Homo sapiens: one gene and its partners. The protein of the gene in region 1 purifies or fractionates together with the protein of each later gene. This does not show direct contact. Each region holds a gene or a part of one and is shown on either strand. Other genes may lie near its edges. The genes, in order: GINM1, ATP2B2, FLVCR1, FGFR1, CANT1, ADCY9 and PTPRS.

The links.
Region 2: the proteins of GINM1 (region 1) and ATP2B2 purify together in Homo sapiens (affinity purification with mass spectrometry; 3 studies listed by BioGRID and IntAct, with this or other methods). This does not show direct contact.
Region 3: the proteins of GINM1 (region 1) and FLVCR1 purify together in Homo sapiens (affinity purification with mass spectrometry; 3 studies listed by BioGRID and IntAct, with this or other methods). This does not show direct contact.
Region 4: the proteins of GINM1 (region 1) and FGFR1 purify together in Homo sapiens (affinity purification with mass spectrometry; 3 studies listed by BioGRID and IntAct, with this or other methods). This does not show direct contact.
Region 5: the proteins of GINM1 (region 1) and CANT1 purify together in Homo sapiens (affinity purification with mass spectrometry; 3 studies listed by BioGRID and IntAct, with this or other methods). This does not show direct contact.
Region 6: the proteins of GINM1 (region 1) and ADCY9 purify together in Homo sapiens (affinity purification with mass spectrometry; 3 studies listed by BioGRID and IntAct, with this or other methods). This does not show direct contact.
Region 7: the proteins of GINM1 (region 1) and PTPRS purify together in Homo sapiens (affinity purification with mass spectrometry; 3 studies listed by BioGRID and IntAct, with this or other methods). This does not show direct contact.

Annotation. Positions count from the first base shown.
Region 1 is NC_000006.12:149,565,108-149,569,620, reverse strand, and holds the start of GINM1 (glycoprotein integral membrane protein 1 precursor), read right to left. Parts: upstream 3,247-4,513; 5' UTR 3,207-3,246; coding exon 3,087-3,206; intron 1-3,086.
Region 2 is NC_000003.12:10,334,134-10,338,215, forward strand, and holds part of ATP2B2 (plasma membrane calcium-transporting ATPase 2), read right to left. Parts: coding exon 4,043-4,082; intron 2,168-4,042; coding exon of another isoform or gene 1,996-2,167; intron 1-1,995. UniProt on the Homo sapiens protein: ATP-driven Ca(2+) ion pump involved in the maintenance of basal intracellular Ca(2+) levels in specialized cells of cerebellar circuit and vestibular and cochlear systems.
Region 3 is NC_000001.11:212,882,035-212,886,116, forward strand, and holds part of FLVCR1 (choline/ethanolamine transporter FLVCR1), read left to right. Parts: intron 1-1,336; coding exon 1,337-1,404; intron 1,405-3,258; coding exon 3,259-3,362; intron 3,363-4,082.
Region 4 is NC_000008.11:38,423,180-38,427,261, reverse strand, and holds part of FGFR1 (fibroblast growth factor receptor 1 isoform 1 precursor), read left to right. Parts: intron 1-1,016; coding exon 1,017-1,140; intron 1,141-2,562; coding exon 2,563-2,753; intron 2,754-4,082. UniProt on the Homo sapiens protein: Tyrosine-protein kinase that acts as a cell-surface receptor for fibroblast growth factors and plays an essential role in the regulation of embryonic development, cell proliferation, differentiation and migration.
Region 5 is NC_000017.11:78,999,646-79,003,727, reverse strand, and holds part of CANT1 (soluble calcium-activated nucleotidase 1), read left to right. Parts: intron 1-4,082.
Region 6 is NC_000016.10:3,966,285-3,970,366, forward strand, and holds part of ADCY9 (adenylate cyclase type 9), read right to left. Parts: intron 683-4,082; coding exon 1-682. UniProt on the Homo sapiens protein: Adenylyl cyclase that catalyzes the formation of the signaling molecule cAMP in response to activation of G protein-coupled receptors.
Region 7 is NC_000019.10:5,330,683-5,334,764, forward strand, and holds part of PTPRS (receptor-type tyrosine-protein phosphatase S isoform 1 precursor), read right to left. Parts: intron 1-4,082. UniProt on the Homo sapiens protein: Cell surface receptor that binds to glycosaminoglycans, including chondroitin sulfate proteoglycans and heparan sulfate proteoglycan.

The DNA of each region.
Region 1 (4,513 bases):
CATGCCTGTAATCCTAGCACTTTGGGAGGCTGAGGCGGGTGGATCACCTGAGGTCAGGAGTTTGAGACCAGCTAGCCAACATGGTGAAACCCCGTCTCTACTAAAAATACAAAAATTAGCCAGGCATGGTGGCACGTGCCTGTAATCCCAGCTATCTGGGAGGCTGAGGCAGGAGAATCGCTGGAACCCGGGAGGCAGAGGCTGCAGTGAGCCGAGATTGCACCACTGCACTGTGCAGGATGGGGGACAGAGCGAGACTTCACGTCAAAAAAAAAAAAAAAAAGTGACCGGGCGCAGTGGCTCACACCTGTAATCCCAGCACTTTGGAAGGCTGAGGCGGGTGGATCACTTGAGGTCAGGAGTTCGAGACCAACCTAGCCAACATGGTGAAACCCCATCTCTACTAAAAATATAAAAAAATTAGCTGGGCGCAGTGGCGGGAGCCTGTAATCCCAGCTACTTGGGAAGCTGAGGCAGGAGAATCACTTGAACCTGAACCCAGGAGGCAGAAGTTGCAGTGAGCCGAGATCATGCCAGTGCACTCCAGCCTGGGAGACAGAGTGAGACTCTCTCTCAAAAATAAAAAACAAAAAATAAAAAAATAAAAATAAAAATACAAAAACTAGCCAGGTGTGGTGGCACGCGCCAGTAGTACCAGCTACTCAGGAGGCTGAGATAGGAGAATCACTTGAACCTGGGAGGCAGAGGCTGCAGTGAGCCGAGATCATGCCACTGCACTCCAGCCTGTGTGAGACAGAGCGAGATATTCCGTCTCAAAAAAAAAAAGACTTTTATTTTTCAATCTTATGTGCAATCTTGTATTACCTCAACTTCTGACAACTGCATACATAAAAACAGAAAAATGCTTATAGTCCAATAAATCTGAGTCATCGGAAGAAGGCAGAATTTTCCTGACTTCAACCAGTTTAATTTATATCAGACTGGAAACGAGGATGGACAGATGTGATAAAGCTAGTAATGTTAAGGGTAGTCTGGTTCTGCACTGTTCAATATGGTACACACTAATCACTTGTGACTATTTACATTTACATTGATTAAAATTAAATAAAAATTTAAAAACAGTTCCTCACTGGCACTGGCCACATTTCAAGTGCTCAGTGGCCACAGCAGTCTAGTGGCTACCCACAAGGTGAGAAAAGACATAACCATCAAGGCAGAAAGTTCTACTGGACAGCACTTACACAATATGTGGGACCACTGTGAAATTCTTTCCTATTGGAAATGTTTCACAATAAGACGTTGAGAAGACTTAGATCAAGGGACTTCAGTTTCCCACAGACACAGTCCAGGTAATGAGATTCTCTTTCTAGTTGTTCAGCACTCATTTAATCTGTGAAACTTTTTGTTGTTGAGACAGGCTCTTGCTATGTTAACCAGGCTTATCATCCAACACCCAACTCTTGGTCTCAGGCAATCCTCTGGCTTTGGATTCCCAGTAGCTGGGATTACAGGCGTGAGCCACTGCACCCAGCGTAATATGTGAATTTCCGAGTTTAGATCTGGACTTTCTGAAAGTGAAATGAAGGCCCAAGAAGGGAGAACTGAAATAGTAAAATCATCACTAAGAGCCAGCCGACAATGCAGTGTATTTTAAGCCTGCAGTCAAAATGTATTTTTCGCAGATTATATAGACGTAAACATCTCATTGACACATAGGTGTCAATTATGAATCTTTAAAACTTGAAAAATAGGAAAATAATGTCCGTATTTCCAGAACTTTTTAGAACTATTTCACTTTTATTTGGTCCCTTGGTGCCTGTCCATCACATTCCTATTGTTTAACCAGATGCAACTGTGGTCCACATATAATTTCAGATATAGGTGGTTCTTATGGCAGGCAATGTCGTGGCTTCTTGGAATGCCCTGCAGAACTGAGACATGCTCATCATTTTTGTACCCACGTGGGGTAATGTCATTATCCTAAAACGTTAACACTTGGTTTTTTTGTTTTTGTTTGTTTGTTTTGTTTTGAGCTCCCTCACCCAGGCTGGAATGCAGTGGCACGATCTCGGCTCACTGCAACCTCTGCCTCCCGGGTTCAAGCAATTCTCCTGTCTCCGCCTCCCGAGTAGCTGGGACTACAGGCACCTGCAACCACGCCCAGCTAATTTTTCTATTTTTAGTAGAGACGGGGTTTCACCTTGTTGGTCAAAGTGACACTTACCGTGCCCTTCGCCTTTGTATTTAGAGTGTTCATATTCAAGTCTTGACTAGGAAGAGGTGTACCGACATAGTTTCTTGTCATTCTCAGAACACTTGCTCTTTAAAATATTCAAACTTTTCCCTACCATTCTACTGAAAAAAGGCTGATACTGGCCTAGGTAGGCACGACTCTACGGCAGGAATGGTGAGCATCAGCCACGTTTTAATGTTAGGATGCCTCGATTCTCCCACCTCAGCTGGCATCAGAAGCACCTGCAGGACTCTCCAACCCGGACTGCTGGGCCCCGCCCCCAGAGGCCGGGCTGAGTCCCCAGGGGATGCGGACACCGCCGATCGCGCCCCGCCGTGAGAACTTCTCCTCCAACATCCGACAAAAACATTACGTCGCGCGAGGGCCAGGTCTCTCCCTCTGCCCACCTGAGCCCGGCGGAGCCCCGCAGCCTCGGAACGGCGGACCCTCGCGATCGCAGGCCGAGCAGGCACAAGTGGCCTGGAAATGCGCGAAGTGGGCAACTTCCACACTTCCCGAGCACACAAACATTCCTTGCCCAAGCGCTGGCTCTACCCCGGGAAGGCGCCATTACGAAGGCCTGATCACCGGCAACCGCGCGCTTCGACGGCAAAGCCCCGTCAGGTCGCGCGCCGGCTTGGGCCGCCGGAGAGTCGGTGTGGAGTGGCTCGAGGCTCACTCACAGCGACGCAGCCCCAGTGGGTCCCTTTCCTCTTACCTCGGCCTCCCACGCCGCCCCCATTTCCTGGGGTGCTTCTCCCCACACCTCCTTCGGGGGCCCGGACCCCCGCCCCTGCCCGCCGGTGGGATGTGGGAAGCGTCACTGTGGACAGCCCGGGCCTCCCGGAGAGTCGGAGTCGTAAAGCGGCCAGCCAGGCCCGCCCTGCCCTACCTGTGGGGCTCCGGACAGCGGCGGCGGCTCGGGGGCGCCCGTCGTCAGCCAGCCGGAGGCGGGTAGCGCCACGAACAGCAGGAGCCGGAGGGCGAGCGACCCCGGTGGAGCGCCCTCCATCTTGGACAACCCGGGCAGAGGGCAGCCGCGGCCGGGAGGTGAGGGCGGAGCCGGCCCGCGGGCGGGACGGAGCTTCGGCGGGAGGGACGGGGAGGGGCGGGGAGAGACGGGGAGGGGCGGGACGGGCCCTCCCCTCCCCGGGCGGCCGCGGAGAGGCGCGGGGACGCTCCGAGATCCGGCTCGCCAGGGAAAGGCGTTTGCGCACGCGCAGCGCCGCGCGGCGTCGAGGGGCGGAGTGAAATCTTGGAAGGTACGGCCCCTCATTAGACCCGCCCTCAGGATTGGACAGGACTCCAACTGGAGCGATGTAAATGTCCTCGTAACCATTATTTTTAAAATTAGTATTTACACACATGCATGTGTCTGTGTGTGCACATGTACATGTACCTATACGATGAAAACAACGGTAATATTTCAGAAAACTGTTATACATTAAAAATGAAACATCGCATTTACAGGGGAAGTTTTTATTAAGTGGGTAATTCCCCACCCTTGGCTGCACGTGGGACTCTCCCGGGCAGCTTTAAAAAGTACTGGGGTCTTCCTGAACACCCCACTTTCCAGCCTGGGCTGCGGCTCGGGCCCTGGTGGTTTTTTAATTTTCTCGGGTGATTCATTGTGGGGCCAAGGTTGAGGATGCGCCATGCTTACTGTTCAGCATTCTGCCGACCCCTGGAGGCGGCGCGGGGACAGCGCTCAGCTGGAAGGAAGCCAGCGCACCTGGGCTGTCAGTGCCTTTTTGGTCAGTATCGTAACTCTAAAGTGAAAGTGTTAGACTTTTCTTCCACCTTGCAGATTTAAAAAAAAAAAAAAGTTACGGAACCCTGTAAAGCAGAGTAGCAAGAAATTCAAGCATTTTAGATTAACAGGATTGCATGTTGATTGAGAAAAACTTGGAAACTTGGCCATTCAGGCAGAATAAGAGTAATATTTAGTCTTCCTTTGAAATAAAACTTTTGACATGAAATAAAACTTTTGACATGAAAAAGGAAACAAGAATCTATTTCTCTCTTTGAGCCCCCTTTACTCCTTTGAACACCCTCCTCCCACAGGCCTGCTGACCGCCACCGCCCCCTCCCCCGGCCCCGCCCCAGAATAAATTATAAACGTTTTGGCTAAAGACTCCTTTCAACTAACTCCGGGCTTACTCTGAGATTCCCCACGCCATTGTTAAGCTACAAGTGATTTCACAGCGAAGCCCCACACACTTCTGGGTTCCATCTGCAAACTTGGCCTTTTCCTTTTTTTCCTACTGCTGGAATTAAAAATGAATTTGGAGATGGGCGTGGTCATTTGTGCCTGTACTC
Region 2 (4,082 bases), on another chromosome or scaffold:
GGACGACTTCCAAAGGCAGTGGGCCTGCCCAGCGATGTCAGGTGTGCTCCGTCGTGGCCAGGGTGAAGTGCTGCCCTTCAAGAAAGAGGCTCAACTGGGATGGACAAAGAACTGGGCCTTCACCCAGAAGCCAGACTGCTAGCAGGCAGCCCCAGCCGGAGGGCCGCAGGAGTCATCGGGAGGGGTGGCAGAACAGAAGTGGATTCTTCCCCATGTAGCTCTCCCTGCCGGGACACTTGGTTACCGCACCTCAGGATAGGTGGGGGTGCTGAGCAAGGCCAGAGCTGAGTTGGTGCAGAAAGGAGCTGGGAGGTCAGCTGGCTAGGCTGCTGCTAAGGTGAGAGCTCTCTGGTCTAAAGGGGAGGAGGATGGGACCGGTGTTGCCTTCCCCGAGAAATCCTGGCAGTGACTGCCTAGTGACGGTATCTCATGGAAATGTGACTCAGCCACCATCTGCTGAAATGCATCTCCATTTCATCTTGGCTCCCCGGTCCTCCCCAGCACTGCGTTTCTGTGCTGACGAATGAGCACTGAGAGGCTCCTTCCCTGCTTTCTGCTTCTGTCCTGCCGCTATGGGTCGTGGACATTTGCCATCAACAGGCTCCCTGTGGCCCGCGCCTCCTACTGGAGGCACTGAGGGAGGCGCTCCCACCAGCACACCGGGTTACCTGCTTGGCTGCAGGGGTTGTGTTGTGGGTGTTCTGGTTTTGGATGGGGGTAGAGGCCCTTTATAAAGTTTCAAGGGGTGAGCTGGAGTCTACTTCTCATCAAAGAAGCTGGAGGCTAAGACTGACACTATGCCAATTGGAGAAGACCAGAACCAGGGGCTCCCCTGCAGATCAGAAGCGCCTGACTGGAAACATAGCAGGGCGATGGGAGGAAAGACAGACTTGTTCCCTATGGGGCCCGAAGCCATGGGTCCGGGAAAGAGCTAGACAAAGCCAGCAATGAGTGATCTAGATCAGAAGTGGTGGCATGAGGAGATGAGCTTGGCAGGAGGGAGATGAAGGAGGGGCCACAGTCCCAGGCTATCTCTCAGATAAAGGAGGGCAGGATGCTGAAGGGCATATCAGGTCCCTCTGGGCCTGCTGGCACCCAGGCAAGATGTGAGGCTCGACCCACCATTTTCTACCAGGGGTCAAGCTGAATGGGCCAGGGACCTTGTCCTTTCCAGGAAGGGCTTAGAACTTCAGCAAGTTCCAAGCTCAGCCACAGGGAAAGGTGTCTGCAGGGCAGCTGATGCAGTCAAAAGTGCAAGGGGAGGAGTGACAGGAAGCGGGCAGAGACTCTGAACTGCTGGGGTGCAGCGTCTAGGCTGTGAGCTCCTAGGTGGCCTGGGGATCCCTGGCTGACTATGACCTCTGACCTGCAGTGACCTCTTGGCTCAACTGTCCCCCTTGACCATGACCCTCATTACTGTGGGTGCCCCCTGACCAACTGGGAAAGTCTGGTTGACGTGACCCTCTCCTGGGTGGATCCCAATGTGACTGACTGGGACCCTAAGGGGCTTGCTCCCCTTGACCCACAGTGACCCTTCTGCTGACTTTGACTGCAAGACTGGGACCTCTTGTCCAACTCCAACCCTTGCCTTGGTGGTCCAGGCTTTTCCTGACCACATATGACCCTAGGCCAGTGGGACACTCTGTGTCCCCTCCATGTCTGTCCCCCTCTGGCTGCCGGGACCCTGTGGTGGGTTGGGACCATTTGGTCACTGATGTCCTCTTGACCAAGGGTGACCCCTTGACTGAACCAGACTTTTTGGCCACTTGGGACCCTAATGACCCTCTGACTGACCCTGGTCCACTGAGTGACTGCCACCGCATGACTGGCTACGCTCTCCTGACCAACGGGACCCTCTTCGGTGGCTGGGACCCTTCATCCCCCTGGGCCTGATTGTGACCGGCTGCCCCCCATGTCCTCTGGTGCCCCAGCCCCTGCCCGCCTGGGAGCTGGCGTGGGCAGTGCCAGCCGGAGGCAGTAAGGAGTCACACTCACGCCCGGCTGCAGCAGGAGGAAGGCTGGTCGGAGAGGAAAGAGCATTGGACAACGACACGCGACTAGGGCTAGAGAGATTGGCTACATCCTGGCTCTGGCTGGTGACCGAGGACTGTCTCCGCAGGGCCCCCTGAAAGGAGGCCCCGCTCTTGAAAGTATTGACTACTTCAATCTGCAACGGAGGAGAGAACGAGACAAGTTGCGAGAAGAACGAGCACAACGGCTACATGACTGACAGGGCAACGTCACAAGAACAGCCGCAGCCACGGCAACAACGACAATGTCACTTAAATCAAAACAAAAATACCAGACACACTCCAAGGCTCTGAAAAACGTCTGCTCAGCTCTGGGCCCACCTGCAGGCCCCAGGGTCCCCGGGAGGACACAGGGGGTCCGGCCTTTGTCCTGTGCTAGTGGCTCAGGGGCCAGTGGGCTGGCCAGTGGGGGAGGCAGTGATTAAACATGGTATCTGGAGGGAAGAGAGCAGTGTTCAGCCTCCCTCAGGTACAGGCGTGGAGGTAGAGGGTGTGGTGGGGGTCCTGAGGTGGACAGAGCTTGGCCTAAATTCCAGCTCTGTCACTTACTAGCTAGCTGACCTTGGGCAAGCCACCTCTCTGAGTCGAGTTTCTTGTTCTTAAGAAGGGTCAATGCCACCTGCCTGGCAGGGTTATCTGTAAGTGGCAAAGCACCTGACCCGTGTTAGCATTCCGCAAGAGGCAGGCAAGACAGGCGCCCCTGCCCACTCAAGAAATCGCAGTCCTTGCTTCCTCCCGTAATCTGGAGACCCCTGCGTGGCTTTGCCGCCAGGGCAGTGACAGCACCAGGGACATATTCACTGAGTTGTCCTGGACCTCCCAGGAGGTGGGGGCAGGCTGGGAGGGGTGGCTGCGGGGCCCTAACCAGGGAGGGTGAGCCCAGGCCCGTGTCAGGCACCTCCGGGTCTGAAACCGGCTTCCAGTCCCCACCCCAGCTGTGCCAGCTCAGTAGAAGGGGCCATCTCCTGGACCTTGGTAACCTCTAAAACTGGGGGAGTCACATCTACCTCCCAGGGCTGTGAAGGTCACATGAGGTGAGGTTTGGGACAGGGTACAGAGGGGTGGGAGGTGACCCAGGTGAGCTCTCTGCTACATCGGATGGAAATGAGGTGCTGGGCCACAGCTGGCAGGATGGTGGCCAGGTGGCTGCTTCTACACTGCACTTCGCCCAAGCATGCTGGGGCATGGAGGAGCTCCCACTCCAGCTCCCCAGATGGTCTGGGCAAGAGACCCACAGAGTCCCTTCTGACCCTCCCCTCGCAGGGCTGTGACAGCACTTGTGAGCTACAACACCTGCTCCAGGCATAAGGGGACCATGTGAGAGCATGTGGTATGTGTGTGGGGGGGTCGGGGGAGGCGCGCAGGTGTGTCGTGTGCCACGTGGCAGCCATGCTCTCTCTGCTCTGGGGAAGAAACCTGCTTCTGGCTGGCTACGCCCTGCACCTGTGCTCCCCTGGTGTGCTTGGTGTGTGCATGTGTGTCTGTGTGTGCTTGAGGATGACTGACCTTTGCTCCCCAGAGCCTCTCCACCCCCTAGGGGAAGCTGGGGAGAGCAACTGAAGCCCCCGTGGAGGCGGCGGACCCCCTGACCACCACGCCCTGGGGGACCCTGGGCGACCTGGCCTGCAGCTTCTGTCCAGCCTCACACGGCCCCTGTGGGTGGGTGCCCCCAGCCCTGAGCGACAGTCCCCTCACTCACCTCTGCCCTCAGAGCCACCCTTCCCCACCCTCTCAGGGAAATCCCCCTGGAGACCATGGTGGGTGTGACCCCTACCACTTCCCCGTGCTGCCCTGAGAGGGCACAATGGGACCTCTCTGAGGAGGCCGTGCTGTTCCTTAGCAGCCACAGGAGTGGGTGTGCAAGTGGCTGGTGAGAGCTGGCCGGGACCCCTCTGTAGCCACCCTCCCTCAGCACCAGAGCTGGGCCCTGGGGGGCAGCACAAGCACACTCACCTCCATCCCCTGGCCCGCCCCGGCCAGGCCTGGGCCCAGCCCCCAAGAGCCTCCTGTACCTGTGTCTGGATCCGATTCAGGCCTCGGAACCACAGGATC
Region 3 (4,082 bases), on another chromosome or scaffold:
GGCAAGGATGTGGAGCAGTAGGAACTCTGCTGGTAGTATGAACGGATAACAACTACTTTGAAGAGCAAATTGCTTATATCTAGAAAGTAGAAGGTCTACTCTAGATATATACTTAGAGAAGCTCTTATGTATAAGAACAAAAACATAATACTCATTGCAGTCTTGTTTTAAACAGTGAAAAACTAAAAAAGAAACCCTTAAGTGTCTATTGACAGGACGAGATAATTAAATTGAAGTATATTAACATAATAGAATACTGTACAACAGAAAACTAATGAACTACAACAAAAAATATCAACATGGATACATCTCAAAACCATCTCAATATAGTGTAACAAGAGCAAGTTGCAGATGGATACAAATAATATTTATATACTTACAGAATACTTCTAATTGTTTATGAATATGCATATATGGTAATATATAAAATGATAAGCACCAAGCTCAAGCTAGGGCTTGACTTTGGTAAAGAATAGGATTGGGAAAAGTCTGAAAAATGAATCTGAAGCAAAGATGGAAAAATGTTAATGTTTGCCAAATCCGGGTGATATATGAGGATATTTGTTGTATTCTCTATGCTATTTTATATTCTTAAAATATTTAATAATAGATAAATAATAAACTTAAGTTTTAGCTTAATTTAGGTTAAGAGTCTTACCTAAATTCATACAATACATGCTAGGAGACATCAGGATTCAAACCTATCCTGTGCTTCTCATAGCCAGTTGTTTTTATTGTTCACTTCTAAAGTATCCTTTGGGAGGCGAGGCAGTAGAATTGCTTGAACCCAGGAGACGGAGGTTGTAGTGAGCTGAGATTGCACCACTACTCTCCAGCCTGGGCAACAGAGCAAGGCTCCATCTCAAAAAAAAAAGTATTAACTGATTTTGTCTTATGAATTTTCAGTAAGTCTTTGATACAAAAAGGTAAGATCTCTGAAGCACAGTTTCTGTTAGGCTTTGCACATTTGTTGGCTGTAGTAGTACATTGTAGGAATTCAGTAAACAATCCATTGCTTGACTGGTTGCCATATATGTGTTGCATGTGGGGGTATGATTTATGGTCAGTATATCTCAATCTAAATAATAATAGTATTAGGACAGAGTTCTGCTATTACATCTTTAGTACAGTTAGGTGTTAAATTCATTAGTCCAGGTTCTGAAAGGGAATGACAATGGTTTTTAATTTCCTTTATCAACTGTGTTAAGAAATGTATTTCCACAATTGTCACATAATATTCCATGTCACTTCATGAACTGGTAAATGACACACTTTTAGTATTCTCTTTATTATTGTAGGTATCATGACTTAATATCATCTTTATTTATTATTGTAGGTATCATGACTGGTGCCTTTTATTCAGTCTCAACGTTATTAAATCAAATGATATTGACATATTATGAGGTAAGCTTCTGCTTATATCAGATTGCATGCCTGGCCAAAAATTTTTCTTTAGCAATATAATTGTCGTTAGCAGGGTCATGAGATTAAGGGTTATGACATTGTTGCTATCAAATATTTACATTTGTTTTAATTGAGAATATATTTGTTAAAAAATGAAATTTCCACAACTTTATATATCTAATTGGCTTTTATTATCAATTCGTTTATTGGACAGCATCCCATCTAAAGATTTAGAAAGGTACTGATGAGCTGAGCAGAGGAGATGGGCTTTATAGGCAGAAAAAGGCTGAAGAAAGCAGAAACAAGGAACAAAGAGCAGATTGGTTGCTACAAAGTTACTTTCCTTATAGGAGTAAAACAAAGGGGACTGGGCCCCATCTGATAGGTTGCTATGAATCTCCTTTTTTTTTTTTTTTTGGAAAAGTGGCCCATTTTAAAGTTCAGTTTGATTATGTGACACCTAGCACTAGTGACACCATTCTATGTGGTCTGGTCTGTTGGGCCTACTGTGGGAGCTCACTCCAAAACAATGGCCTCCCATCATTTTAATTTAACATATTTAATCCAGTTTATAAAGCACATAGTATGGCCAGGCATAGTGGCTCACGCCTGTAATCCCAGCACTTTGGAAGGCCGAGGCGGGTGGATCACCTGAGGTCGAGACCAGCCTGACCGACATGGAGAAACCCTGTCTCTACCAAAAATACAAAATTAGCTGGGCATGGTGGCGCATGCCTGTAATTCCAGCTATTCGGGAGGCTGAGGCAGGAGAAACACTTGAGCCTGGGAGGTGGAGGTGGCGGTGAGCCGAGATCGTGCCATTGTATTCCATCCTGGGCAATAAGAGTGAATCCCCATTTAAAAAAAAAACAGGCTGGGCGCCGTGGCTCACACCTGTAATCCCAGCCAAGATAGCGCCACTGTACTCCAGCCTAGTGACAGAGTGAGACTCCATCTCAAAAAAACGAAACAAAACAAAATACACACACACACAATATGGAAAGCAGAAGTTACTATCCCTGTGACAATACCTAAGTTTATTTTTAGGAAATAATATGATTGGTTATATGGAAAAAGACAAAACATTTTAAGGGAACTCAGCATAAATATAGATAAATAAATATCAAGTTTTGATTGACGTATCTGCTTTTGAAAGGATAAAGCAGTTGTACTATGTAAAAGCTATCGATTAACCTCCTTTTCAGATATCTATACAGTGTCATACCTTGCTTAGTGACAGGAATACCTTCTGAGAAATTCGCTAGGCAATTTCATTGTTGTGTGAATATCATAGAGTGTACTTACGCAAACCTGATGGTAGAGCCTGCTACATACCTAGGCTACGTGGTATAGCCTATTGCTCCTAGGCTACAAACCTGTATAACATGTTATGCTACTGAATGTTGTAGGCAGTTGTAATACAATGGTAAGTATTGTGTATCTAAATATATCTAAACAGAGAAGGTAGAATAAAAATACAGTATTATAATCTTACAGGATCATACTGTATATATGATTCAGAGTTGACCTAAATGTAATTATGGAGCACATGACTATCTATACTTAAGAATCCTAACAAAAATCATTGTACTTCTAACCATAGAGGATTAAGGAAAATTTACCTTTTTTATTTCTTCTATTATTTTAGGCTTTTTTTCTGGTTTTAAAATATAATGCTTTTATATATTCTTTACCTGCCCTCCCCTCCCACACTGACACATGTACTAAATCTTCCTACTGTGTGCTTAGTTTTATCTAATTATTTTCATTGACTATGAAAAGGTGTGGGAATGTGAAGAGTCTGAATTAGTTAATCCATTTATTTGATCAACTTCTTACGCAAATTTTTTTCAGGGAGAAGAAGTCAATGCTGGAAGGATTGGGCTAACGCTAGTAGTAGCTGGAATGGTGGGCTCTATTCTTTGTGGCTTATGGCTGGATTATACTAAAACATACAAGTAAGTGAAAGTAAATACATGTATGGTGTATAACCAAAGGTATTTTGATTTTAAAGGACAATTTGCTTTTTATTTCAAGAAATTTAAAACATGTTATTACTTAAAGATACGGATTCTAAACACTAGTAGGTTCTCTTCACTTAACAAGTGTTTCTTTTTTTTTTTTTTTTTTGAGACGGAGTCTCGTTCTGTCGCCCAGGCTAGAGTGCAGTGGCGCAATCTCGGCTCACTGCAACCTCTGTCTCCCGGCTTCACGCCATTTTCCTGCCTCAGCCTCCCGAGTAGCTGGGACTACAGGCACCCGCCACCATGTCCGGCTAATTTTTTTATATTTTTAGTAGAGACGGGGTTTCACCTTGTTAGCCAGGATGGTCTCGATCTCCTGACCTTGTGATCCACCCGCCTCGACCTCCCAAAGTGCTGGGATTACAGGCGTGAGCCACCGCGCCCAGCAACAAGTGTTTCAATACTCTATGTATTGTATTATTTTATTGGTCACATTTATTTCAATTCTGAGAACTTGGATACCTTATGAGCCCCTTCTTTCTAACAGTACTCATACCTACCACTTCCGAAGGAATTATTTCTATTCTAAAAAGAGCCATTTCTGAGAAATATTTGACTTTTGATAGACTTTATCTTGTTCTTTTTTTTTTTTTTTTTTAGGTGGGGTCTCACTCTGTCACCCAGGCTGGAGTGCAGTGGCACCATCTTGGCTCA
Region 4 (4,082 bases), on another chromosome or scaffold:
CTATTTTGTGATATTAGGTATTTTCTGGTTTTTCACCATAATAAATAATGTTGCAGTGAATCTCTGTCAGCATTTTTTTAAGCGTGCTTCCTTAGGACAGATTGTTACAAGTGAAATTACTAACTTAAAGGGTGTAAGCATTTTTTTTTTTTTTTTAGACGGAGTCTCACTCTGTCACCCAGGCTGGAGTGCAGTGGTGCCATCTTGGCTCACTGCAAGCTCCACCTCCCAGGTTCATGCCATTCTCCTGCCTCAGCCTCCCGAGTACCTGGGATGTGCAGCCACCATTCCCAGCTAATTTTTGTATTTTTAGTAGAGACGGGGTTTCCCCATGTTGGCCAGGCTGGTCTTGAACTCATGACCTCAAGTGATCTGTCCGCCTGGGCCTCCCAAAGAGCTGGGATTACAGGCTTGAGCCACCGCACCCAGCCAGAAATATTTTAAATTAATTCACCATGCACTCACTACATGCAAGACACCATGCTTTAAATGCTGCAAGATAGCGTTCCTGCCCATAAAAATTTTGCAGTCTGATAGGAGGCAAATGTCCATGAGCAGCTACCGTAAAAAGTAGACTGTGATCAGTGCTTTGGTAGGCAGAGAGGAAAGGGTGAGCACAGTTCTGACCAGAGACTGGACTGGAGGAGATGGTTTTTGAAATGAGCTGTCAAGGACAGTGGGGGCTGGATTCTTAGTGTAATAGGAGAGGTGCACAGTTGGGAACATTCTTGGTGTATTTGGGAGTGTTTGCAGAAGGCACATCTGTCCGGATCACGAATGATCTTGAACGTCACAGTGGAGACTTCTGGAGTCTTTACACCCCATCTGCCAGCTTGCAGAGTGTGAACGGGCTGGTAGGGGGGCAATCCACGCCTTGTCCTAGCCAACCCTGCAGCCTGGGGCCCTGTGCCACCAGGCTCTGATATGGAGGGCAGGTGCCACGGGGTGCCGACATTGTCATGGGGCCTGCATTTTCCTCTGGACCCTCAATGTATCCCTTTGGCATTTCCCCTCAGGTCCGTTATGCCACCTGGAGCATCATAATGGACTCTGTGGTGCCCTCTGACAAGGGCAACTACACCTGCATTGTGGAGAATGAGTACGGCAGCATCAACCACACATACCAGCTGGATGTCGTGGGTAAGAGGGCAGAGGCAGCAGGAGGAATGAGTTTAGTGGGAAGAGCCAGGCTTGGAGAACACAGCCGGGGTGTCCAGGTTTCTTAGGGGCAGAGTCAGGATAGCGATTGGCACTTCTTGGCTTTGTCACCTTGAGCAGGTCACTTCTCCCTTTTGAGCCTCACTTTTCTTATCTGTAAAATAGAGTTAAGATCAGACAGTAACACGGTCAAAGCTGGTTGTCACTGTGAAATTGAAGGTGCTGTTCAGAGTCTGTCCTGAAGGAGGCGTTGTTGGAGAGGTGTTAAATGTAGCGTAATAGGAGCTGTCGCTTAATGCTAGCAAGATGCCAGGCTCCTTAAATACCTGCCCTGTAATGCTCATGGCACACCTGCAAGGTGGGCAGTATTAGTCTAGCCCTGCACAGGAGCACAGGCGCATAGGCTCAGAGAGGTCAGACACCTTGCTAATGCAGAACTGCACACCTGTGCCAACTTCAGGGCATCACAGGAGACTCTGGGAAGAACATTGAGCCTCTTGGAGCTATTACCGCAACCTTTTCCTTCTAGGAGTTCTGAAACTCACTCCCTAGAGATCATTGGGTACAGAATCTCTCAGCCAGTGTTCTTCTTGATTATGATGATATGGTCTAAGAAGGAGATTGTGGCCAGGAGCAGTGGCTTATGAGCTCCAGGTGGCATGATGGGATTACTCACGCCTGTGATCCCATCACTTTAGGAGGCCAAGGCTGGAGGATTGCTTGAGGCCAGGAGTGTGAGACCAGCCTGGGCAACACAGTGAGACCCTGTCTCTATAAAAAAATTTAAAAATTAGCCTAGTGCAGTGTCATGTACTTGTAGTACCAGCTGAGTTAACTGAGGCTACTGAGGTGGGAAGATCACTTGAGCCCAGGAATTCGAAGCTGCAGTGAGCTATGATGACACCCTTGTGCTCCAGCATGGGTGACAGAGTGAGACCCTGCCTTTAAAAAAAAAAAAGGTAAAAAGGAGATTCTGATCCAAGAGGTTGGGGTAAGATCTGAGATTCCGCGTTTCTAACAAGCTCCTAGGGGATGCTGGTAGCACTGCTCGTGGACCACACTTTGAATAGCAGGAGTCAAAGTGACTCTGGTTTTTTAAGGAGGAGCAGGTTGTGCTGAGGTCTGGGGGTGCAACTGAATTAGAAGGTTCTCCATTAAAGCATGAGCGACTTACTGTGACTGTAAATATGATGACTGCCTTGGGGAGGAGGATCCTGATGGCTTAGGGCCTGAAGAGAGGGTGTCCCTTTCCCCAGCTCTGTTTTGAGAGGCTTGGGCTCAGCAGAAGTGCTGGGAGGTTTACAACCCATCACTGGGAAAGCCAAGTGGGGCGCAGGTGAGCCCACCCCTCTTTAGCCATGGCAAGGTCCCCATGACAAGTGCCTCCTCTCCCATCTTCCACAGAGCGGTCCCCTCACCGGCCCATCCTGCAAGCAGGGTTGCCCGCCAACAAAACAGTGGCCCTGGGTAGCAACGTGGAGTTCATGTGTAAGGTGTACAGTGACCCGCAGCCGCACATCCAGTGGCTAAAGCACATCGAGGTGAATGGGAGCAAGATTGGCCCAGACAACCTGCCTTATGTCCAGATCTTGAAGGTAATCATGGCACCAGTCTTCGTGGGCCAGTCTACTGGGAAGGAGACCACTGTCTCGGGGGCTCAAGTTCCTGTGGGCAGGCTCAGTTGCCCCCGAATGGGATCATTCCTCACGCTTCAGGCACACACACTCCATCTCAGTAGGGATCTAGCCACATCCCCCAGGACTAGTAACAGAGGTCACAAAGTGGAGGTGAGCTGGGAACAGAGGGCTGCAGGGATGGGTGGTGCTGGTCTGTAATAAGCTTTGAGAGCAACGTCACTGGGGCTTTGGGGTCAGCTACACAAGGAAGGCATTTGGACCCCTGCCTTTTCATTGCCCGAAACCAGAGCCTTTCCACCAAGCGTTTCCCAGTCTTAGCCCTGTGTCCTGAGTTACGTACGATCTTTCTGGCAAATGGGGTGCATGATAAGAGCATCTCTTACGAAGAGTTGGAAAAACAAATGCCATATATAAATTCTAAGCCATATGAGGACGAGGAGTAATGGCATTTTCTTCCTTTTTCCTCTCACTCCCAGACATTCATTGTCCCTGAATGCTCCATTAATCCAGGGAAGGTAATTGCCTAAATCTCCAGTGGATCTCGCAACAGGAAGGAACCAGAAGCTGGGAAAGTTGTTTACCTCTTTGTCCCAGAGTTAGACCTCATCCTCCCCTAGCTTAGCTGTCTCAGAGATATACTGGCCCTCCCTTCTCTTCTCTTTGCTGCTGGTGCTAAAACTGCTCTGTAGGTCATTGGCCACTGTCTCCACTCACAACCCCTGCTCCAGTCCTGGAGGGAGTGGGTTAAACACAAATAGAACATTCCATTTGAAGCAGTGATTCTTTTTTTTTTTTTTTTTTTTTAATCAAATGCTTTGGACTTTTGAAGTCCACTTGTTCTGTACTTGTAAAAGGGAAAGAAGGCCGGGCGCAGTGGCTCACGCCTGTAATCCCAGCACTTTAGATCACTTGAGGTCAGGAGTTTGAGACCAGCCCGGCCAACATGGTGAAACCCCATCTCTACTAAAAATACAAAAATTAGCTGTGCATAGTGGTTGGCACCTGTAGTCCCAGCTACTCAGGAGGCTGAGGCAAGCTAACTGCTTGAACCCAGAAGGCAGAGGTTGCAGTGAGCTGAGATCACGCCACTGCACTCCAGCCTGGGTGACAGAGTGAGTGAGACTCTGCGTTAAAAAAAAAAAAAAAAAAAAAAACTAAAAGGGAAAGGTAATAAATCTCACTTAACATCTCCCTTCGCTCCCTGGGCCTGCCTGAAAGTTACACGGGAGCAACGTGCGTGGCCACATCTCAGCTTTGCCCAACTGACTGGTGTGTCGTTGGTTTGTT
Region 5 (4,082 bases), on another chromosome or scaffold:
GCCTGGCTGGCCACAGAACCCATGACTTTGCTGTAGTCCCTGAGTCCTCTTGTTGCTGATTATCTAAAATCAAACCATTACTCTGCAGGCACTGGGTTTGTCAATCTTTTCACAATAAAGCGAGCATTTAAACTGCTTAAGCTTTGAGGGGTGTAGGGAGAAGCCTCACACGAGCCCCTTCTGGAAAGGACTTTGTCCATCTTGTGTCTTACCCTCGCCGGTTCATTTCTGTTGTTTCTGGCTGGCAACAAACAAAAGAGCCCCCCCACCCCCCACCCCCGAAAAAGAACCCAGCTTTTTAAAGAACATGCAAACTCTTGCCTGCAGCAGGCGCCGGCAGCCAGGCACCCCGGCAGCCAGTGGTAGCTCATACACCAGCATGGGCTGTGGCAAAGGCATCTGATTTGAAATTTTTTTGCAAAATAAAATAATTCCTTGGGGTCCTGAAGGAGAGATGAAGCCCAAGGGAAGGTGTTCTGGTGCTGAAGTTAAAGGAATTTTCTGGAAGGTACACAGAGTTCTCTTGTCACTAGAAGCAGTCCCTTGTTTAACCAAAGGTGGCTGAGGCCCTGGCGTCTCTGCCCCTCTGTTAGCTCTGGGGAATCAGCGTGACCTCGAGGTAACACTGACCACACGGGACTGTTCAAAGTCTGTCTCCCCAACTGTGCTGAGCTCCTGGAGGAAAGGCCCCTGCCTCCGTCACACTGATTCCCCAGAGGGGCAGAGACGCCGGGACTCAGACACCTCTGGTTCCATGTGGTCAGAGGACATGAGCCTCCCGGGTGGGGAGCGTGTGCCACGGTGTAGATGCCAGGAGTCTGGAATAGGAAGGCGTGCAGTGTTGCACAGCGACCTGGGAGAGGTCCTGCTCCTGGGAGTGCAGGGGGAAAAACCCACTGAGGCTTTCTCTGCAGGCTGAGACGTTTGTCCTTCAGATGGAAGGCATTGGGATCTACTAGACTTGGAATCCAGACTTGCTTTTTGGAAAAATTATTCTGTCAGTTTTGTGGAGGGTGATTTGAGATGGTCTTGACCAGGGATCTGTCGAGGGACAGGGAGTCAGTATTTTCAGCCTCCACAGTCTGTTGCGACCACTCAACGGTGCAGCCAGACTCAGCATGCCAGGGAGGAGTCCTAGCTGGCTTTAATCAGCCACATCTACACACCAGGACGTGACTACACAGCAGGCCGCGTCTACGCAGGCCGCGTCTACACACCAGGCAGAGTCTACACACCAAGCTGCAACCACATACCAGGCCACACAGGCCGCATCTACACACTAGGCGGGAGACTGCATTTGGCCCACGGGTGGTAGTTTGCAACCCTCCCAGCAGGCGAGAGGGTACTTGTAGAGTGAGTGAGAAGCAGTAGCAGTCAGCCCCTGTGCACAGTTCTCTAACCCCATCAGCATGGCTCCGGGAAGTAAACTGAGGCCAAGGGAAGTCCCTTGGCTGAGCCCAGATGGTCTATATCAGGGGTGTCCAATCTTTTGGCTTCCCTGGGCCACATTGGAAGAAGAATTGTCTTGGGCCACACATAAAATCCATTGATAGCTGATGAGCTTAACAAAAAATCTCATCTCATCATGTTTTAAGAAAGTTTACGAATTTGTGTTGGACCACATGTTGGACAAGCTTGGTCTAGATCATTAGACCAAGACTCTGAGAGTCATCAGGGTGAGATGGAACTGGAGCCGAGGCTGTGTGGATGGGGAGAAGGGAAGCGAGTCTCAAGCTGGGTGGGACACGTGGGGCTGGGGAGGGAGGAGGGTTAGGACGAATTGCTTCCTGGGATGGCTCCTGAGGGCCGGCACTGCCAGGACAGGGAGTTCCTGAGGAGGACCTGGTTTGCGGTGCCTGTGGGTATCGGATGAGGAGGCTCAGAGACTAGGTCAGGCTAGAAAGGCGTGGGGGTCTTCACCTTAGAGGGCAGGCCCTGGGAGAGGTCAGTGGGCTGCCAGCAGTGGGGGCCGAGAAGACCTGCCTGGGAGGAGGCCCACAGAGAGTGCCCCCCTGCCTCGAGGAGGGACACTGACAATGTGCTCACTGGGTTTGCCACTGGTGAAGGCTTCAGGTGGCTGCTTCTGAGGATTAGCCAGAGGGAAGGAGAGGGTGTAGGTGTGGGTGCTCTTGTACCATGGTGGGCGAGGGGGCCTGGGCGGGGGTGGGAAGGGACAGAGGTGCCGGGGACTCAGGGAAGGGTTTTCCTTCATTAACAGATTCGCCATTTATTCAGCAGCAGTTGAGTGTCTGTGGGAGTGTGGGGTCTGGAGGTAAAATGGTGACAAGGTGGGCGACTTGGGGCAGCCTGTGGATGGAAGGGAGGAACCAGAAGAGCAGGTGCCCGGCGGCTGGGGGGACTGACCTGAGTGGCAGGTGTGAGCCCCACCCAGGGGCCTCGGCTGCTGAAGTTGGCCACAGAGTGGTCTCCTGGGAGAAGTGGGCCGGAGATTTGACAGGAATGGTGAAGGTGAGGACAGTGGCTCTCCGGAGTGCTGAGGGAGTTGAACAGGGAAGAACATGGGGGTTCCAGGGGCTGGTGACGACGACACCTCACGATGTCTGACAGCAGTCTATGCAGGCACCGTTGTTCTGTGCTGGCAAGCACCGTCTTCCCGGGCCTGCAGCTCAGATGTGGCAGCTGAGCAGCTCGATCTTTGGGGTGCTTGATCCAGGTTGTGGGTTCATAATATGCCTAAGGTGGGGCCCCCGGTAGAGTGCAGAGGGGCTGTTGAAGAAGTGGCTAATGGCTCACCTGGCATCTCTTTCCCTTCAGCCAATGCGTGCAGACTGTCTGCTCCCTGCCTGGCAGTGCGTCAGGTGCTGGGGCTGTGACAGTGGCCAGATCCCTGCCCCAGGAGCAGAAATAATCACCTAGCCAGGCAGGGACGGTGGGAGAGCCGGAGCGGCATGGGAGGGAGGGCGAGTGGGCAAGTCTTCCCAGGGAGCTGATGCCCCGTAGGAGAGACCGAGCTGCTGGTGCGAAGAGCAGGCCCGACTGTTCCAGGCAGGGGGAACTGCAGGCTCTGCCAGGGCCAGTGTGGTCAGGGGACAGAAGGAGGTCTATGTAGCCAGCCGGCAGGCAGAGGAGATGGTACAGTGTGAGGGCTGAGCGGGAGCAGAGTGGGTTCACCCCAGGACCTGAGGAAGCCGCTGAAGCTGGGAGTGTGCCATCTGATGGATGCTACTTCATGGCAGGTGGCGAGGGAGTGTCAGGGGATGTTGGTGGGGGGCAGCTGGCAGGGCAACTTCATGGCGGGGGGTATGGGAGTGTCAGGGGCGGAGAGGCAGGAGGGGTGGAGGGAGGCAGCCGGCATGGCATGGTGAGGAAGGGCCATGGAAGAGGACAGAACCTGTCCACGGAGTCAATGCTGAGGAAGGAAGACGGAGGATGAGGCCAGTCAGGTTTTTCGTGGTGGCAGTGCCTTATGTTTTTATCGAAGTGTATATTCACACAGAAAAGCACATCTCCCAGGATCCTGAGAGAGCTTGAACCAGACCACTGTGGACACGGTGGCCACCCGTCACCACTACCCTTCCCAAGGGGAGACGAGGAGCAAGTAGGCTTGAGGGAAAAGCTGCACAGGACTCGTGTCTTGAAATGTCTAAGACGCATGTCAGAAATGCAGGTAAGGGGGGGTGCGGGTGCTCGCACCTGTGATCCCAGCACTTTGGGAGGCTGAGGCAGGAGGATCACTTGAGCCCAGGAGTTCAAGACTGGCCTGGACAATATAACGAGGCCTCATCTCTATAAAAAAAATTAAAAATTAGCTGTGCCCCAGGTGTGTTGGCTCACACCTGTAATCCTGGCACTTTGGGAGGCCAAGGCAGGTGGATCACCTGAGGTCAGGAGTTCAAGACCAGCCTGACCAACATGGAGAAACTGCATCTCTACTAAAAATACAAAATTAGACGGGCGTGGTGGTGCATGCCTGTAATCCCAGCTACTAGGGAATCTGAGGCAGGAGAATCACTTGAACCCAGGAGGCGGAGGTTGCAGTGAGCCGAGATCGTGCCATTGCACTCCAGCCTAGGCAATAAGAGGAAAACTCTGTCTCCAAAAAAAAAAAAAAAAAAAAAAAA
Region 6 (4,082 bases), on another chromosome or scaffold:
GTACAGCAGCTTGGTGGTGCCGATGACCCCGGCCGTGAGGGGCCCATGGTTGAAGCCGACGCGGAGCTTGAAGTTGAACCACAGCATGTTGTTGTTGAAGTCGTCCACCACGCGCATCATCTCCTTGGCGAACTCGAACAGGATCTGCAGGTGCTCCTGCGGGTGGCTGCCGTCCTGGGCCTGCGCGGTGTTCAGCCCTGACGCCGCCATGTACGTGGCTCCGATGGTCTTGATCTTCTCGATGCTGCTGTAGTCCGGCTTGCTTAGGAGCTCGTCAAAGTCCCCGATGAGCTCGTTGAGGACCCGGTAGCACTCCTTGCCGCCCTCGTAGTTCTCCTCGTAGAACTCGCTGAAGTTGACGATGCTGGCGAAGATCACCCCTCCGCTGTCATGGTTCTTGGAGTAGGTCTGGGACACCTTCAGCTGCTCAGCCACGTGGTAGGGGATGATGTTCCTCAGCAGCCAGTCTGCCTGGTCCCGCATGCTCTGGATCTTGGTGCGGTGAAGATCCGCTTCCACGTCTCCGTGGTAGTGGAGGCGGTAGCTGACTTCAAATTCGCGATTCAGGAACCAGACCAACAAGAGCAGGAGAAAGAAGACGAGAACCACCTCCTGGCCGATGAGGCTGGCGGGCCGCCGGAGGTCACGCGGCACCGAACTATTGCACGGGTTCCTCTCGGAACTGGAGAGCAAAGACACGGGAAAGGGAGAGGTTACTGCTCGGCGCTTCCAAGCTCAGAACAGCCCCGCTAGCTACGCAAAGCTTTGTTGAGTCCAGGCCTTCAACAACCTGAAGCTGTCAAGCTGCCCATTCCTGGTTTGGGCTGGCTGAAGGTATGGAGGGATAAAGACTAACTTTTGAAACTGATTGATTTCATTTTGTTAAATAGAGGTGGGGTCTCACTGTGTTGCCCAGGCTGGTCTTGCACTCCTGGGCTCAAGCAATTTTCCTGCCTTGGCCTCCCAAAGTGCTGGAATTACAGGCGTGAGCTGCTGTGCCCAGCCCTGTAACTAACATCTTTAGTAAGTGCTTGGTAATCGTTTTTCTTTTCTTTTTCTTTTTCTTTTTTTTTAGAAGTCTTTAGCTTCTTTCAAAAATCTTTTCTTTTCTCTCTCTCCTTTGTTTTTTTAGAGACATGGTTGTTGTCCAGGCTGGAGTGCAATGGCACAATCATGGCTCACTGCAGCCTTAAACTCCTGGGCTCAAACGATCCTCCTGCCCAGCCTCCTAAGTAGCTGGGATTACACGCATGTACCACCACACCTAGCTAATTAAAAAATTTTTTTTTTGAAGAGACAGGGTCTTGCTGGTTGCCAAGGCTGGTCTTAAACTCGTAACTTCAAGCCATCCTCCCACCTTGGCCTTCCAAAGTGCTGGGATTACAGGCTTGAACTGTGCTTGGCCTAACATCTTTTTTTTTTTTTTTTTTTAAGATTGAGTCTTGCTCTGTTGCCCAGGCTAGAGTGCAGTGGTGCGATCTTGGCTCACTGCACCCTCTGCTTCCTGAGTTCAAGTGATCCTCCTGCCTCAGCCTCCTGAATAGCTGGGACTATAGGTGTGTGCCACCATGCCTGGCTAATTTTTGTATTTTTAGTAGAGACAGGGTTTCATCATGTTGGCCAGGCTGGTCTCAAACTCCTGATCTCAAAGTGATCAGCTTGCCTTAAAGTGCTGGGATTACAGGTGTGAGCCACTGCACCCGGCTTTTTGCTGAATGAACTTTTTGAAAGTAAGTTGCTGACATGGCACTTCAGCTCTAAATATTTCAGCATGTATCTCCTAAGAATAAGGATATTTCCCTATGTAACTACAATATCATCATCATACCCAAGAAATTTAACATTCTCTGATATATTTGGTTCTTAGATTTCTTTTTTTTTGAGACGGAGTTTTGCTCTTGTTGCTGGTGAGATCTTGGCTCACTACAACCTCCGCCTCCCGGGTTCAAGTGATTCTCCTGCCTCAGCCTCCCCAGTAGCTGGGTTCACAGACATGTGCCACCACACCCAGCTAATTTTGTATTTTTAGTAGAGACGGGGTTTCTCCATGTTGGTCAGGCTTGTCTCAAACTCCCGACCTCAGGTGATCCGCCCACCTCAGCCTCCCAAAGTGCTGGGATTACAGGTGTGAGCCACCGCGCCTGGCCTTGGTTCTTAGATTTCTAATCCAATAAACTTATCATTTTACAAATAGCTTTTATGAGTTCTATACTCTCTACCTGTATAAAAAAGTTTGACAAGACGCCATCTCCCCTGATTCTGGGTTAGTTCTTTTTGCCGAAATCACTCAGGACAATGCTAACATCTGAACCAGTGCCATTATTTTCTCATGGCTGTGCAGTGTTCCAGCACTCGGAAATTCTGTAATTTAGCCAGATTCCCCCTGATGGAACTGGGCCCGAGTCTGTCTTTTCTTACCACAAACAGTGTCACAGGGAATATTCCCCTACCCCTATCTTTGTGCGTATGGAAGTGCTGAGTCATTTTAAATATTGCACATTTAGAATTTCCTTAGAAATTTCCAAATTGCCCTTCTAAACAAGGCTGAACCAGTTTCTGCTTTTTTTTTTCTTTTTTTTGAGAAGGAGTCTCGCTTTGTTGCCCAGGTTAAAGTGCAGTGGCGTGATCTCGCCTCACCACAAACTCCGCCTCCTGGGTTCAAGCAATTCTCCTGCTTCAGCCTTCTGTGTAGCTCGGACTACAGGTGCACGCCACCATGCCCAGATTATTTTTGTACTTTTACTAGAGACAGGTTGGTCTCAAACTCGTGACCTCGTGATCCACCCGCCTCGGCCTCCCAAAGTGCTGGGATCACAGGCGTGAGCCACCGCGCCCAGTCTCTGCTCCCTTTGATAACTGAGCCTGCTTTCAGCGGGGCTGTCTCCACTTCAGTGGCACTGATGGAGACAGCCATGGTCAGGGGGCTGCAGATGAGTGGTGAGTAGCACAATTTCTTTTTTTCTTTTTCTTTTTTCTTTTTTGAGACAGAGTCTCACTCTCTAGCCCGGGCTGGCATGCAGTGGTGTGATCTCAGCTCACTGCAACCTCCACCTCCTGGGCTCAACGATTCTTGCGGCCCAGCCTCCTGAGTAGTGTGCGCCACCAGGCCCAGCTAATTTTTGTATTTTTTTTTTGGTAGAAACGGGGTTTCACCATGTTGGCTGGGCTGGTCTCAAACTCCTGACCTAAAGTGATCTGCCCGCCTCGACCTCCCAAAGTGCTGGGATTACAGGTGTGAGCCACCACACCTGGCTGAGTAGCACAATTTCTTAAAGTTTGTTTGAAATATATATATATATATATATATATATATATATATATATATGTATTTTTTTTTTTTTTTAAGAAGAGACAGGGTCTGTCTCTGTCATCCAAGCTGGACTGCAGTGGTGCGATCCTAGCTCACTGCAGCTTTGACCTCCCAGGCTAAAGCGATCCTCCCGCCTCAGCCTCCAGATTAGCTGGGACTACAGGCACACACCACCACACCTGGCTAATTTTTTGAACTTTTTGTAGAGATGAGGTCTTACTATGTTGCCCAGGCTGGTCTCAAACTCCTGGGTTCAAACTGTTCTGCTTCTGCCTCCCCAGTGTGCTGGAATACATTTTTTCCCATTTAAAAATACTACATACTCATCATAGAAAATGTAGAAAAAAATAGACAAAAAAGATTTGTCCATCGTCCTGCCATCCAGAGGCAATCACTATTAACATTTGTTGAACTGCATTCTAGTCTTTTTCTTTTTTACAACACCGTGACTGTTCTGTTCATGTAAATGCTGTACCCTGATGCATTCCTCCCGCGCACAGAGTAGGCCAGTTGATTTGATGCAATAATGGGCTTGGTCACTATATACTTATATATGCGACTGGCGGATCCACAGTTTAGACAGCTCCATCACACTGGAAAGCTCAATTCTTTTTCTTTTAGAGACAGGGTCTCGCCATCTTGCCCAGGCTGGTCTTGAACTCCTGAGCTCAACCAATCTGCCTGCCTTAGCCTCCCCAAGTGCTGGGATTACAGGGATGAGCCACCACGCCTGGCCAAAACTCAATTCTTCTTTTTTCTTTCTTGCTCTGTT
Region 7 (4,082 bases), on another chromosome or scaffold:
AGGAAATAATGAGGTCATCTCACACAGCCAGGGAGGGTCTTTGTCAGGATCCGAACCTGGGGCGTTCAGACCCCTAATGCCCTTCCCCAGCAGGGCCGGAGTCTGGGCTCCCAGGGCCAGATGGGGCCAAGAGAAAAAGTCCTGGGACCTGGCAGCCTCTCTGCACCCTGCTGATATCTGGGAGTTGAAGCCAGCACTGTTGCCGGAAACCCCGGCAGTTCACACTCTCTAGAATTCATCCGACAGGGGCAATTACCCACTTCCAATAATCAATGGGGCAGTGGAACCAGGACAGATGTGCAGAGGGAACCCATTAGCAATCTAAGCGTTCTGGCCCCGCGAGACGTCAGGGAGCGTGTTGGGTGGACGCTCAGGGACAAAGGCACCATCTGCCTGATTTCTCTCGCTGTCTTGGGTCTTCAGCATAAGTCAGGGCTTCTTTTTTTAAAAAAAAAAAAAAAAAAAAAAGAGAAGGCCTTGCTCTGTTGCCCAGGCTGGAGTGGAGTGATGCAATCATAGCTCACTGCAGCCTCAAACTCTTAGGCTCAAGCAATCCTCCCACCTCAGCCTCCCCAGTAGCTGGGACCGTACGTGTGCACCCCAACCCTCGGCTGATTTTTTTTTGTTTTTTGTAGAGATGAGGTCTCACTGTGTTGCCCAGTCTGATCTTGAACTCCTAGGCTCAAGCAATCCTCCCGCTTTAACCTCCCAAAGTGTTGGGATTATGGACGTGAGCCACCATGCCTGGCAAAATCAGGGTTTCTAAACCTCAGCACAGTGTACATGAGGGTGGGGTCATTATCTGGGATGGGGTCATCCTGGCCATTACACAGAGTTGAGCAGCATCTCTGGCTTCCACCTACTCCATACCAGCAGCACCCCCCTGGACATGACACCCAAAAATGTCCCCAGACGTTGCCAAGTGTGCCCAGGGGAGCAAAAGTGACCCCGGCTGAGAACCACAGCAGTACACTCAACGAGTAATACTGGTAACCCGGGTGCTCCAGCCCCAAGAGCAAACGACTGCGCTACAGAAAGAACGAGGGATGGAGAAGCAGGTCCTGCCGCCAGTAGATAATTCGCAGCCCTGCCCCGCGGGACAGCCGGCTTCCTTCTACGCAGTATTTAATTTAAGTCAAGTTTATCATTATGACCAATATTAATATAATCAGAGCCAACGTTTATCGAGCGCGGACGCTGGCCCAGGCCCTGTTCTCAGCACTCTCTGTAAGCTATCACACTGGTGCCTCTAAAGAACCGCAGAGGTGGCTGGGAGTCTTAAACCCATTTCACAGGCCTGGAAACTGAGGCCCGCGGACGGCAATGGAGGTGTCAGAAGTCACGCAACTTTTAATTGTTGGGGAAGGGGTCAAAGTCCACGGTGGCCCTGGATTTCTGTACTGTGCCATGTTAAGATGTTTCAACCCAAGGATGTTAAAATAGGGCAATTTTTTTTTTTTTTTAGACAGAGTCTCACTCTATCGCCCAGGCTGGAGTGCAAGTGGCATGATCTCAGCTCACTGCAACCTCCGCCTCCCAGGTTCAAGCGATTCTCCTGTCTCAGCCTCCCAAGTAGCTGCGATTACAGGTATGCACCACCATGCCCAGATTATTTTTGTATTTTTAGTAGAGGCGGGGTTTCACCATGTTGGCCAGGCTGGTCTCAAACTTCTGACCTTAGGTGATCTGCCTGCCTTGGTCTCCCAAAGTGCTGGGATTACAGGCGTGAGCCATCATGCCCAGCCAAAATTGGGCAATTTTACTTAAAATCTAGATTTCTGCTTTTCCTTGGAAAAACCAACAGATCTGGCCCTGGAGCCATTCAGGGCTTCCTTGGAGGTTGAAGAAGCCTTTTTGGCCCATACGACCCGCTGGAGTGGAGACTCCAGCCCTGACAGGCGTTATGGCTTGAGAATCACACACCCGCCATGGCTTCCTGCCTCGGTTTCTCCCTTTGGACTGGTGAAAGGGGTCCCTGTCCATCCTCCTGCGCAAGGCCCAGCAGCAGGCAGGCAGGCATGGCTGTGTGGTCTTGGGCAAGTTGCTCTCCCTCTCTGGGCCTTGGCCTGACAGATGTTCCAAGAAGCATTCCCAACATTCCAGGTTTTCTGTTGATCCTGATGTTGGCAGCCCAGCTCTGGGGGCTTTCAGAGAACTCTGACCGCACATCTAAAAAATGCAATTTGTTAGACGCGGTGGCTCACGCCTGTAATCCCGGCACTTTGGGAGGCCAAGGCAGGCGGATCACTTGATGTCAGGAGTTTGAGACCAGCCTGGCCAATGGGGTAAAACCCCATCTCTACCAAAAATACAGAAATTAGCCAGATGTGGTGGCGGGTGCCTGTAATCCCAGCTACTCGGGAGGCTGAGGCAGGAGAACCACTTGAACCCGGGAGGCGGAGATTGCAGTGAGCTGAGATCACGCCGTTGCACTCCAGCCTGGCGACAGAGCAAGACTGTCTCAAATAAATAAAATAAAATAAAAAATAAATAAAAAATGCCAATTCGCCAGGTGTGGTGGCTCACACCTGGAATCCCAGCATTTTCCGAGGCCAAGGCAGGCAGATAGCTTGAACCCAGGAGTTTGAGACCAGCCTGAGCAATATGGTGAAACCCATCTCTACAAAAAAAAAATAAATAAATAATAATAATAATAATAATAATAATACAAAAGTCAGCTGGGCGTGCTGGTGGATGCCTATAGTCCCCAGCTACTTGGGAGGCTGAGGTGGGAGGATTGCTTGAGCCCAGGAGTTAAGACACTGCAGTGAGCCATTATGGCATCACTGCACTCCAGCCTGAGCAACAGTGTGAGTCCTGTCACACACACACACACACACACACAATGCGATTCGAACTCCTTGGGGTGGGGGGTCCTGTGTGGTCTTCCCCAGCTAAAGTCAACTCTTCTCTTCTTGTTTCCGCCCCCCTCACCTCCAGCCACAAAGCAGCAGGTGCCACTCTCAGTCTCTGTCCTTGGTGCCCCCCACACCAGTTCATCTGTCTCCACTTATGATAGAGGCAATGTCAAAGCACCCATTTTACAGATCAGGAAACTGAGGCACAGAACAGCTTTATTACTAGCCCAAGCCCCACAGCTGCTTAGATTCTGGCTTCCAAGTTCCTTAGCAGCAGGTTTCCAGCAATCCTGATGGAATGAATGAATTAATGAACTGGTGAATATTCGAATGAATGCATGCATGCTCGCTCGCACACCATGCTTGTCAACCGATCACTTTCCTGAGTGCCCATCAAATGACTGCTGTTAAACCCCCAAATCCCCCCCAAACTCCCCCCTTTGGTGATCACTCGGGCCCACCAGGGGCTCTGGAAGTTGGGAGCCACATGTGGAGTCCCTGGAGTGCCTGGAGCTCCCAAGGCAGCCACGTGTCCTCCCTGTCCACCATCCAGGCCCCCTGTGGTTCAGCTCCCGCCAGTCGCCCAGTCCTGCCGCAGAAGTGGGGCGGCCTTGATTAAGCAGCCAGTGAAGGGGAACGCCCCAGTTTGCAGTGGCTGAGTCATCCTGACATCTCCCTGGTGCTGGACCCCATCGGGGGGCTGAGGGCGGGGTAGCGGGGCGCGGGTGGACACTGGAGAGCCCCTCTTGGGCAGGTCCTTCAACATATCAGTGTAGCTCCCATGTTGTCAAAAATAATAACAAAAACAGAATAGAGGTGGCAGCTACATTCTAGGTGCCGTTCTGAATCTGTGCTTACACACGTTAACTCATTTCTTCCTCCTAACAATCCCTCAAGGTGGGCACTGTTACTCTTCTCCATAGACAGATGAGGAAGACGGAAGCACAGAGAGGTTGAGCAACTTGCCCCAGGTCACACAGCCAACAAGTCGGCAGAGCCGGGATTTGAACCCCATGCAGCCTCAGTCCAGCATCCTTGCTCTTAACCTCTGAGAAAAGGCAGTCAAGAGCCCTGGGGTGTGTGTGTGCGGGGGGTGTCTCTGTAGCGATTCAGGTGGCCCCCGCAGCAGATGGACTGCTGTCCAAACAAACATCCCTGACAATCGGGCAGAGCTCCTTCCAGGCGTTAGGAATCCAGGTTGTGGCAGCCAACAGCTTGTGGGCT